Regions from separate parts of the Homo sapiens genome. Here region 2 is reported to be linked to region 1. Evidence: microRNA targets listed by miRTarBase, many of them from high-throughput screens and not tested one by one. Region 1 holds a microRNA gene; the other region holds the end of a gene's coding sequence.
What was found. The annotated mature microRNA hsa-miR-33b-3p reads CAGUGCCUCGGCAGUGCAGCCC and lies in region 1 at 2,898-2,919, opposite strand. An mRNA with a match to its seed (bases 2 to 7 or 8) in the 3' UTR can be bound and repressed. Matches are read on the target gene's strand: a 7mer-m8 pairs with bases 2 to 8, a 7mer-A1 pairs with bases 2 to 7 and ends in A, and an 8mer does both.

Region 1 (4,388 bases):
CCCGTGTGTCGCCGCCGTGCGTCGTGCGCCCGCAACAGAGCCCCAACCGGGCCTTTGCCGGGTAAGGGGCTACCGCGACGCCACTTGTCCACGCAGCCACCACCGGCCCGGGCCAGTCCCTGCCAGTCCGTCCGCCTGTCCGTCCGTGTCCTCAGCTCTGTCCACGCTTCGATAGGCCTGACGCAGCCCCCAGCCCAGGGCCGCCCTAGCAACTTCCTGTACATATGACTGTAAAATGGTAAACGTGTGTATTATATCTGGCCTCGTTATATAGTGTATATATATGTATACATATACATATATATAATATATATGAAGACTGTAAATGTTAAGACGACTAGTGTTCTTATTAGTATATTGCTTCACACTGAAGATTGTGTGTATCGAGCTGTTTCTAAAAGATGTTTATTTTCCTTAAGAGTAAAAAACAGTCATTGCATTCAGAAAAAAAAAAAAAAAAAAGTCAATAAAGATACAACGATTGTTTTGGAAAATCTGCAGCCCGTGGATTCCGACCAGATTCAGCTGGGAGCCGGGCCAGGCTTTAGGTTGGGGAATGGGAATGAAGGGAGGGGCTGGGGGGGGGGGCATGAATGGAGTCAGGGAGTCGGCCTTTCACAGAACAGGAAACCTCCCCCGCCCCTGTGCCCCCTCTCCAGTGTGGCGGCAGGTCGGGAGGGAGGAGGCTTCTTTGCTGTGAGATGACCAGGGGCCGGGATGGGGGAGGTGAGACGTGCCAGACTTCTTGCAGGGAGACCCAAGCTGTAGCTCCTGTCACACAACAGGTCCTGGAAGTCAGTCCATCCTCCCGTGCCACCCAGGGACCTGATGGGGACAGAGCTGGGAGGTGAGAAGGGACAACTGACCCCATGGAGGCCCTAAGGGTTGACACAGCCCAACCATGTGCCCTGGGAGCAGGGGGAACAGGTAGGCTGGAGGCCATACAGCCAGCCCTCCCCACTCCTCCCACTAACAAACAAACATCGGGAAGAGCTAAGTTAAAAGTTGTGTACCTTGTGGCCGGAGGGGGAGGGGAAGCCTTTCCCTAGGTGCTGGGGGAGGGCCCAAGCACTCTCACTAGTCAGCACATCCATCAGCTGAAGACACAAAACCCAGATTATAAATAATTTCATTTTTAATTCTCTGTACAAAACTTCTCAATCTATGAAAATAAAGTTTGCAAAAGGCAAAGTAGCACAGGAGCCTCAGGTCAGGAGGCTAAGCACGCTGACCTACACTATGTACACGTCTCTCTCCCACGACGGAGAGAGAGGCCTCTGGGGCAGAGCCCTGCTTGCAGTCCGGGAAAGCCAAGTTGGCTTCCGTCAGCACAGGGAAATGTACCCCTCTCTTCCCTGTACACAGGAGGAAAAAAGCCACTAAGGTGCCTGCAGAGCAAGGAGGGGGGCCCCCCAAAATGGCTCGGCCCCTGCAGTGCCCCGATCGGCCACCAGAGGTCAGCACCATCATGGCCGCCGGTCTTAGGGTCAAGATCGCGCCCCTCGGGCCTTCCACCGCGAAGGCACACAGCAGCCGCAGGTCGAACTGTGGAGGCCAGAGTCTCTTGCACTGCCTTCGGCCTTCAAAGCTTCGACGCAGGACAGAAGCTGCACGGGACCAAAGTGGCTAGAGACAGGGGTGCTGAGGCCGGGGACACGGGGTCTAGCTGGAAGTGACAGTGGTCCCACCGCCCAGGCGCATGAGCATCTGCTGACAGTCGTGCAGCAGCCGGCGATCGCCAAGCTTCTCGAGTGTGCGCGCCGCCTCAGCCAGCATGCCCACGCGCTGCCCGGGCGCCGACAGGAAGCCGGGGGGCAGGTAGCAGGAGGCCAGCAGCAAGGCCTCCGCGTGCTCCCGCCGCGTGGGCCGCGGCTCCAGCTCCGCCACCGCGCCTGCGCACACGAGGATGTGTCAGGGATGGGTCTCAAGCTGGCCACGCCCCCGCGGGAGCCCTGCCCACACACAAGCCACGGCACCAGCCGCCTGTACCTGGCACACAGGTACCTGGCGGGGGCCTGGCGGGTTCCCCTCTCCCCACCCTAGTCTCAGCCCACACACAAAGTCCACAGACTGAGTCACGCACGTGCAGTCATGTATCCCACAAATGACAGTCACCCCACTGATTCCTTGTGAAAGGAATTGTCATCAGGTAACCATCAAGAAGATGCTTGGTCTTTTTTTTTTTTTGAGACAGGGACTCTCCCTGTCACTCAGGCTCACTGCGGCCTCCAACTCCTGGGCTCAAGCTGTCCTCCCAACTGAGCCTCCCAAAGTGCTAGGTGTGAGCCACTGCGCCAGGCCTGTCTGTCCCGTCTGACACACACACAGCCTCCCTTGGTATCACATCCCATGTGCGCCCTTCCCTGCTGAGCAGACAGCACATCCCTGGTCAGCAGCTGCCCCCTCACCTCCTTTGCCACCGGGGCCTGCCCGCCGCCTCAGACTGCGGTCGAGGAGCTGGTGTGTCCGTGTGGGGCTGGCCCCCGCCATCAGCCGGGCCGTGGCCTCATGTAGGAACACCTGGGGGCCAGGAGAGTGGAGGCTCAGGGCTCTCCATCTCCACCACTGCCTGACTCCCCGTCTTGAGGACAGGGCCATCGGGCACTCACCCTCCGCATGGCGGGCCGGAAGCTCTGTGCCAGCCGCCTCAGGCTGCTCAGGTCCCGTTGGAAGCCACGCAGCTCAAGGGCGGAAGCCTGGGGCCTGCTGCTGGTGCCCTGGGCTGCTGGGGCCGGGGCCGGGGGCTGCTGCTGCCGCCACAGGCTGGTGCGCACCACAAGAAGCAGGTCACACAGGAACAGCTGCACGGCCTGGGGGTGGCAGGCAGGGCAGGGGTCACCAGGGCTCCAGCTCTGGGAGGGGCAGGATGGGGGCCCGTGGTGCCAGGGGCCGGCTCCGGGCTGCACTGCCGAGGCACTGCACCCGCCTCACACACGTGCAATGCAACAGCAATGCACCGCGGGGCCGCCCGCCTCTCTCGGCCCCCACACCCGCCACCGGCCCGGGAGCAGCTGTCCAGCCCTCCTGATGCAGGGCCTCCAAAGGGATCCTACCACACCATCCACCCCCCTCCTCCCAGGGATGGGGAAACTGAGGCCAGATAGGGGCAACCCCTCTCCTCTGGACAGAAGCCTTAGCCAAAAAGCAGGGTCTGCTGGACCCCCTATCCTGTGCTGCTTGGGCTAACCCCATGGTCTTCTGCAGCCCCTGGGGGCTGGGGAGAGGAACCAGGGAATGGAAAGCTGAATCCCCCAGCCCTGCCAGGCCCCTGACCCCACCCCTCACCTTGTCAATGGAGCTGCTGGCTGGTGTGGTAGCCAGGCTGTCCTGCAGGTACCCACTGGCCTTCTCACAGATGGTCAGGCTGGCTGGACCAGACTCTGCCTTGGCACAGCCCAGCAGGGCCCGGGCAGCCTTGAAGGAGTGCAGAGCTGCCCTGGGCAGGGGTCTCCTGTTGGGACCAGGGCAGAAGAGTGCCAGTCAGACCAGTCCACAAGCCCTGGCTGAGTGCCCCCCACTTCCCTGGCTCGAGTTCCCTGAGGAAAAAAGGTGGTGACTCCTCCTGCACAGAACAAAGGCTGAGTGAGGCACAGTGCCCAGGGGATGAGGAAGGCTGAGCCCGGGACCAGGCAGGAGGAACCTGCCGTGCACTCACTCAGACTCCTGCAGCACCCGGGGCAGGTGCTCCACCAGCGGGCACAGCCGCTCAGCCGCCTCCTCATCCCGCCGCAGCCAGTGGATCACCACAGCTGTCAGAGAGGCCCACCACTTGGCCACCGGGTCTACGCCTGCAGAAGAGGGAGGGTCCCCTGAACCCTCAGTCACGCTGCACGGGGGAGCTGAGAAGGGAGCCAGGACAGGGGCCGGGGACTCACCGGTGGTGGTGGCCATGCTGGAACTGATGGAGAAGCTGTAGGCAGGAGCCCCCGCAGCATCAGAACAGCTGTTCAGCAGCTGCAGGTACCCGAGGGCATCCGAGAATTCCCTGTGGAAGGAGAGAGCTGGCTGTCGGAACAGATGGCAGGGGTCCTAGGAGGGTGCTCCCCACCTGCCCTCCAGAGTACAGCCTGGCCCCTGGCTCTGCAAAGTGCCACTGTCTCCTCCCACAGGCTGGTGGGGAGAGGAAACTCAGAGAGGAATGAAGCGTGCATGGCACGCACGGTAGCCCAGCTCTGGGCTCTCTCCACAGGGTTGAGGCCAGAGCTATTCTCAGAATCCCGCCGGAGGGGCCTTGCCTGGAGGAGGGCACAACGACACTTACTTGTCCCCATCAGCTGACCCAGGGCTGGGGTTGGGCTGGGTCACACAGTTCAGTGCTCGCTCTAAGAGATGTTCCCGGAATAGCTGAGTCACCTGGGCCAGGGGGTCCACTGTGGAGAGGAGGAGGT
Region 2 (4,388 bases), not on the chromosome of region 1:
TAGATTTTCTCTGCTTGGCTAGCCCACCATCAAATGTTTGGTCGATGCGGATTAGTATTGAGATTGAGCAGTTAACGCCGAACTTGGGTCACTGTCTCAAAATGTGCTTTAATAAATACAAGGGGGAGGAAATGGATTTGGGAAGGCTCGTTGTCAGCTCTGCCCCTGCTCTCACACTGCCTCTGCACAGTGGTGTAGGGGTCACACACAGGTGTTGGCACCAGTACCAACCCGACCCAAATCCTGGTCCCACACACCCTGTAATTTTGGGCACATTACTTGTCTGTGCCTTGGTTTTCTCAGATGTAAAACAGGAATATTAACAGAAGGTGCCTAAGCATCTGGTAAGCACTCTAAAAATACCAGCTATTATTACCAGTATCTGGAGGGTGGGTTCATTTATACCTTAAGAAAGGATCCCCCTAACTCTATTTTTCTTGTGTGCCGGTTTTTAAAACTGATGAATGGCATGCTGTCGGGAAAAATTTATCCATTCCTACTTTTTTTCTAATTGGTGAGTAAGCGTGCATTGCCCTGACATTCTCTGGACAGCAAACAATTGAATTTGCTGACCAGCCGCCATGATGTCAAGCCTTAAGTCAACAGTGGCTAATGACCGCTCTGGGAAAAAACAACACCTTGATTCCTCAATTACGGTTTAAGAAGCCCTGGGAATGAGGGCTCGCCAGTCATCGTCATCCTCTTTTGAGGCAAGCATAATGTGCTGTGGAAACAGGTTACCTCTGCACTGTTGGCAAGAGCAGCCCACACAGTATAACGATTGAGCGTCATGGCTGTGCCCTTTGTGTGTTCCAGGAGGAAACTGAAGAGACATCCTCACAAGAGTCTGCCGAAGAGGACTAGGGGGCGCCAACGTTCGATTTCTACCTCAGCAGCAGTTGGATCTTTTGAAGGGAGAAGACACTGCAGTGACCACTTATTCTGTATTGCCATGGTCTTTCCACTTTCATCTGGGGTGGGGTGGGGTGGGGTGGGGGAGGGGGGGGTGGGGTGGGGAGAAATCACATAACCTTAAAAAGGACTATATTAATCACCTTCTTTGTAATCCCTTCACAGTCCCAGGTTTAGTGAAAAACTGCTGTAAACACAGGGGACACAGCTTAACAATGCAACTTTTAATTACTGTTTTCTTTTTTCTTAACCTACTAATAGTTTGTTGATCTGATAAGCAAGAGTGGGCGGGTGAGAAAAACCGAATTGGGTTTAGTCAATCACTGCACTGCATGCAAACAAGAAACGTGTCACACTTGTGACGTCGGGCATTCATATAGGAAGAACGCGGTGTGTAACACTGTGTACACCTCAAATACCACCCCAACCCACTCCCTGTAGTGAATCCTCTGTTTAGAACACCAAAGATAAGGACTAGATACTACTTTCTCTTTTTCGTATAATCTTGTAGACACTTACTTGATGATTTTTAACTTTTTATTTCTAAATGAGACGAAATGCTGATGTATCCTTTCATTCAGCTAACAAACTAGAAAAGGTTATGTTCATTTTTCAAAAAGGGAAGTAAGCAAACAAATATTGCCAACTCTTCTATTTATGGATATCACACATATCAGCAGGAGTAATAAATTTACTCACAGCACTTGTTTTCAGGACAACACTTCATTTTCAGGAAATCTACTTCCTACAGAGCCAAAATGCCATTTAGCAATAAATAACACTTGTCAGCCTCAGAGCATTTAAGGAAACTAGACAAGTAAAATTATCCTCTTTGTAATTTAATGAAAAGGTACAACAGAATAATGCATGATGAACTCACCTAATTATGAGGTGGGAGGAGCGAAATCTAAATTTCTTTTGCTATAGTTATACATCAATTTAAAAAGCAAAAAAAAAAAAGGGGGGGGCAATCTCTCTCTGTGTCTTTCTCTCTCTCTCTTCCTCTCCCTCTCTCTTTTCATTGTGTATCAGTTTCCATGAAAGACCTGAATACCACTTACCTCAAATTAAGCATATGTGTTACTTCAAGTAATACGTTTTGACATAAGATGGTTGACCAAGGTGCTTTTCTTCGGCTTGAGTTCACCATCTCTTCATTCAAACTGCACTTTTAGCCAGAGATGCAATATATCCCCACTACTCAATACTACCTCTGAATGTTACAACGAATTTACAGTCTAGTACTTATTACATGCTGCTATACACAAGCAATGCAAGAAAAAAACTTACTGGGTAGGTGATTCTAATCATCTGCAGTTCTTTTTGTACACTTAATTACAGTTAAAGAAGCAATCTCCTTACTGTGTTTCAGCATGACTATGTATTTTTCTATGTTTTTTTAATTAAAAATTTTTAAAATACTTGTTTCAGCTTCTCTGCTAGATTTCTACATTAACTTGAAAATTTTTTAACCAAGTCGCTCCTAGGTTCTTAAGGATAATTTTCCTCAATCACACTACACATCACACAAGATTTGACTGTAATATTTAAATATTACCCTCCAAGTCTGTACCTCAAATGAATTCTTTAAGGAGATGGACTAATTGACTTGCAAAGACCTACCTCCAGACTTCAAAAGGAATGAACTTGTTACTTGCAGCATTCATTTGTTTTTTCAATGTTTGAAATAGTTCAAACTGCAGCTAACCCTAGTCAAAACTATTTTTGTAAAAGACATTTGATAGAAAGGAACACGTTTTTACATACTTTTGCAAAATAAGTAAATAATAAATAAAATAAAAGCCAACCTTCAAAGAAACTTGAAGCTTTGTAGGTGAGATGCAACAAGCCCTGCTTTTGCATAATGCAATCAAAAATATGTGTTTTTAAGATTAGTTGAATATAAGAAAATGCTTGACAAATATTTTCATGTATTTTACACAAATGTGATTTTTGTAATATGTCTCAACCAGATTTATTTTAAACGCTTCTTATGTAGAGTTTTTATGCCTTTCTCTCCTAGTGAGTGTGCTGACTTTTTAACATGGTATTATCAACTGGGCCAGGAGGTAGTTTCTCATGACGGCTTTTGTCAGTATGGCTTTTAGTACTGAAGCCAAATGAAACTCAAAACCATCTCTCTTCCAGCTGCTTCAGGGAGGTAGTTTCAAAGGCCACATACCTCTCTGAGACTGGCAGATCGCTCACTGTTGTGAATCACCAAAGGAGCTATGGAGAGAATTAAAACTCAACATTACTGTTAACTGTGCGTTAAATAAGCAAATAAACAGTGGCTCATAAAAATAAAAGTCGCATTCCATATCTTTGGATGGGCCTTTTAGAAACCTCATTGGCCAGCTCATAAAATGGAAGCAATTGCTCATGTTGGCCAAACATGGTGCACCGAGTGATTTCCATCTCTGGTAAAGTTACACTTTTATTTCCTGTATGTTGTACAATCAAAACACACTACTACCTCTTAAGTCCCAGTATACCTCATTTTTCATACTGAAAAAAAAAGCTTGTGGCCAATGGAACAGTAAGAACATCATAAAATTTTTATATATATAGTTTATTTTTGTGGGAGATAAATTTTATAGGACTGTTCTTTGCTGTTGTTGGTCGCAGCTACATAAGACTGGACATTTAACTTTTCTACCATTTCTGCAAGTTAGGTATGTTTGCAGGAGAAAAGTATCAAGACGTTTAACTGCAGTTGACTTTCTCCCTGTTCCTTTGAGTGTCTTCTAACTTTATTCTTTGTTCTTTATGTAGAATTGCTGTCTATGATTGTACTTTGAATCGCTTGCTTGTTGAAAATATTTCTCTAGTGTATTATCACTGTCTGTTCTGCACAATAAACATAACAGCCTCTGTGATCCCCATGTGTTTTGATTCCTGCTCTTTGTTACAGTTCCATTAAATGAGTAATAAAGTTTGGTCAAAACAGATCAAGGAGGGAGACACTCACAAGTCATTTTGTTGCACCCCTTGCACACATCTTGGCACACATGTACATAAAGTGTGTTTTACATATCATACTCCTTCAATCAACTGCCCTGAGCTCGCCTTTCAGATTTTGACATTTAATTCTACAGAGACAATCTTAGAAGAAACATGAAGAACAAGCTGTAGCTCCAAACTACAGAATTTTTACTTCAGGCTAGCACCTACAAAGTTTGTAAGGGAAGTAACTAATGCACTAGTCGTCTTTGAAGTAACATTGGAAAGAGATCCGGAAGATTGATGAATAAGAAATGAAAGCCACGAAGAGTCTCCTAGATAGGAGCCTTTTAACTCTAAAAACTACTAGCAGAGTCAGAATGATTCTACCAAGTTCAAGGTCAACTTGACACTTAAGTTGCTAATTATGAATAAATCTAGGATTTTTAAAAAGCTAAAACTTTCGGTTTTTACTATCACCGTTGTTACTCAAATTTTCTTCATTTAGCTTCTTAGAAGGAGAAATTTGTTTC

Region 2: miRTarBase lists HMGA2 as a target of hsa-miR-33b-3p. The part of its 3' UTR that is shown has no 7-base or 8-base seed match.

The regions. Positions count from the first base shown.
Region 1 is chr17:17,810,960-17,815,347 of GRCh38, forward strand. It overlaps MIR33B (microRNA 33b), which reads right to left and starts at 2,972; the gene lies at 2,877-2,972. RAI1 (retinoic acid induced 1) reads left to right here. Exons shown (of 6, transcript NM_030665.4): 6 at 1-494. It overlaps SREBF1 (sterol regulatory element binding transcription factor 1), which reads right to left. Exons shown (of 19, transcript NM_004176.5): 13 at 4,262-4,370; 14 at 3,876-3,985; 15 at 3,656-3,788; 16 at 3,286-3,451; 17 at 2,610-2,810; 18 at 2,409-2,520; 19 at 375-1,892. The coding sequence ends at 1,663. It overlaps MIR6777 (microRNA 6777), which reads right to left and starts at 2,586; the gene lies at 2,521-2,586. RefSeq lists an enhancer at 1,798-2,356.
Region 2 is chr12:65,962,429-65,966,816 of GRCh38, forward strand. It overlaps HMGA2 (high mobility group AT-hook 2), which reads left to right. Exons shown (of 5, transcript NM_003483.6): 5 at 817-3,863. The coding sequence ends at 864. Among named protein-coding and RNA genes, the nearest start is that of HMGA2-AS2, 16 kb to the left of the region's middle.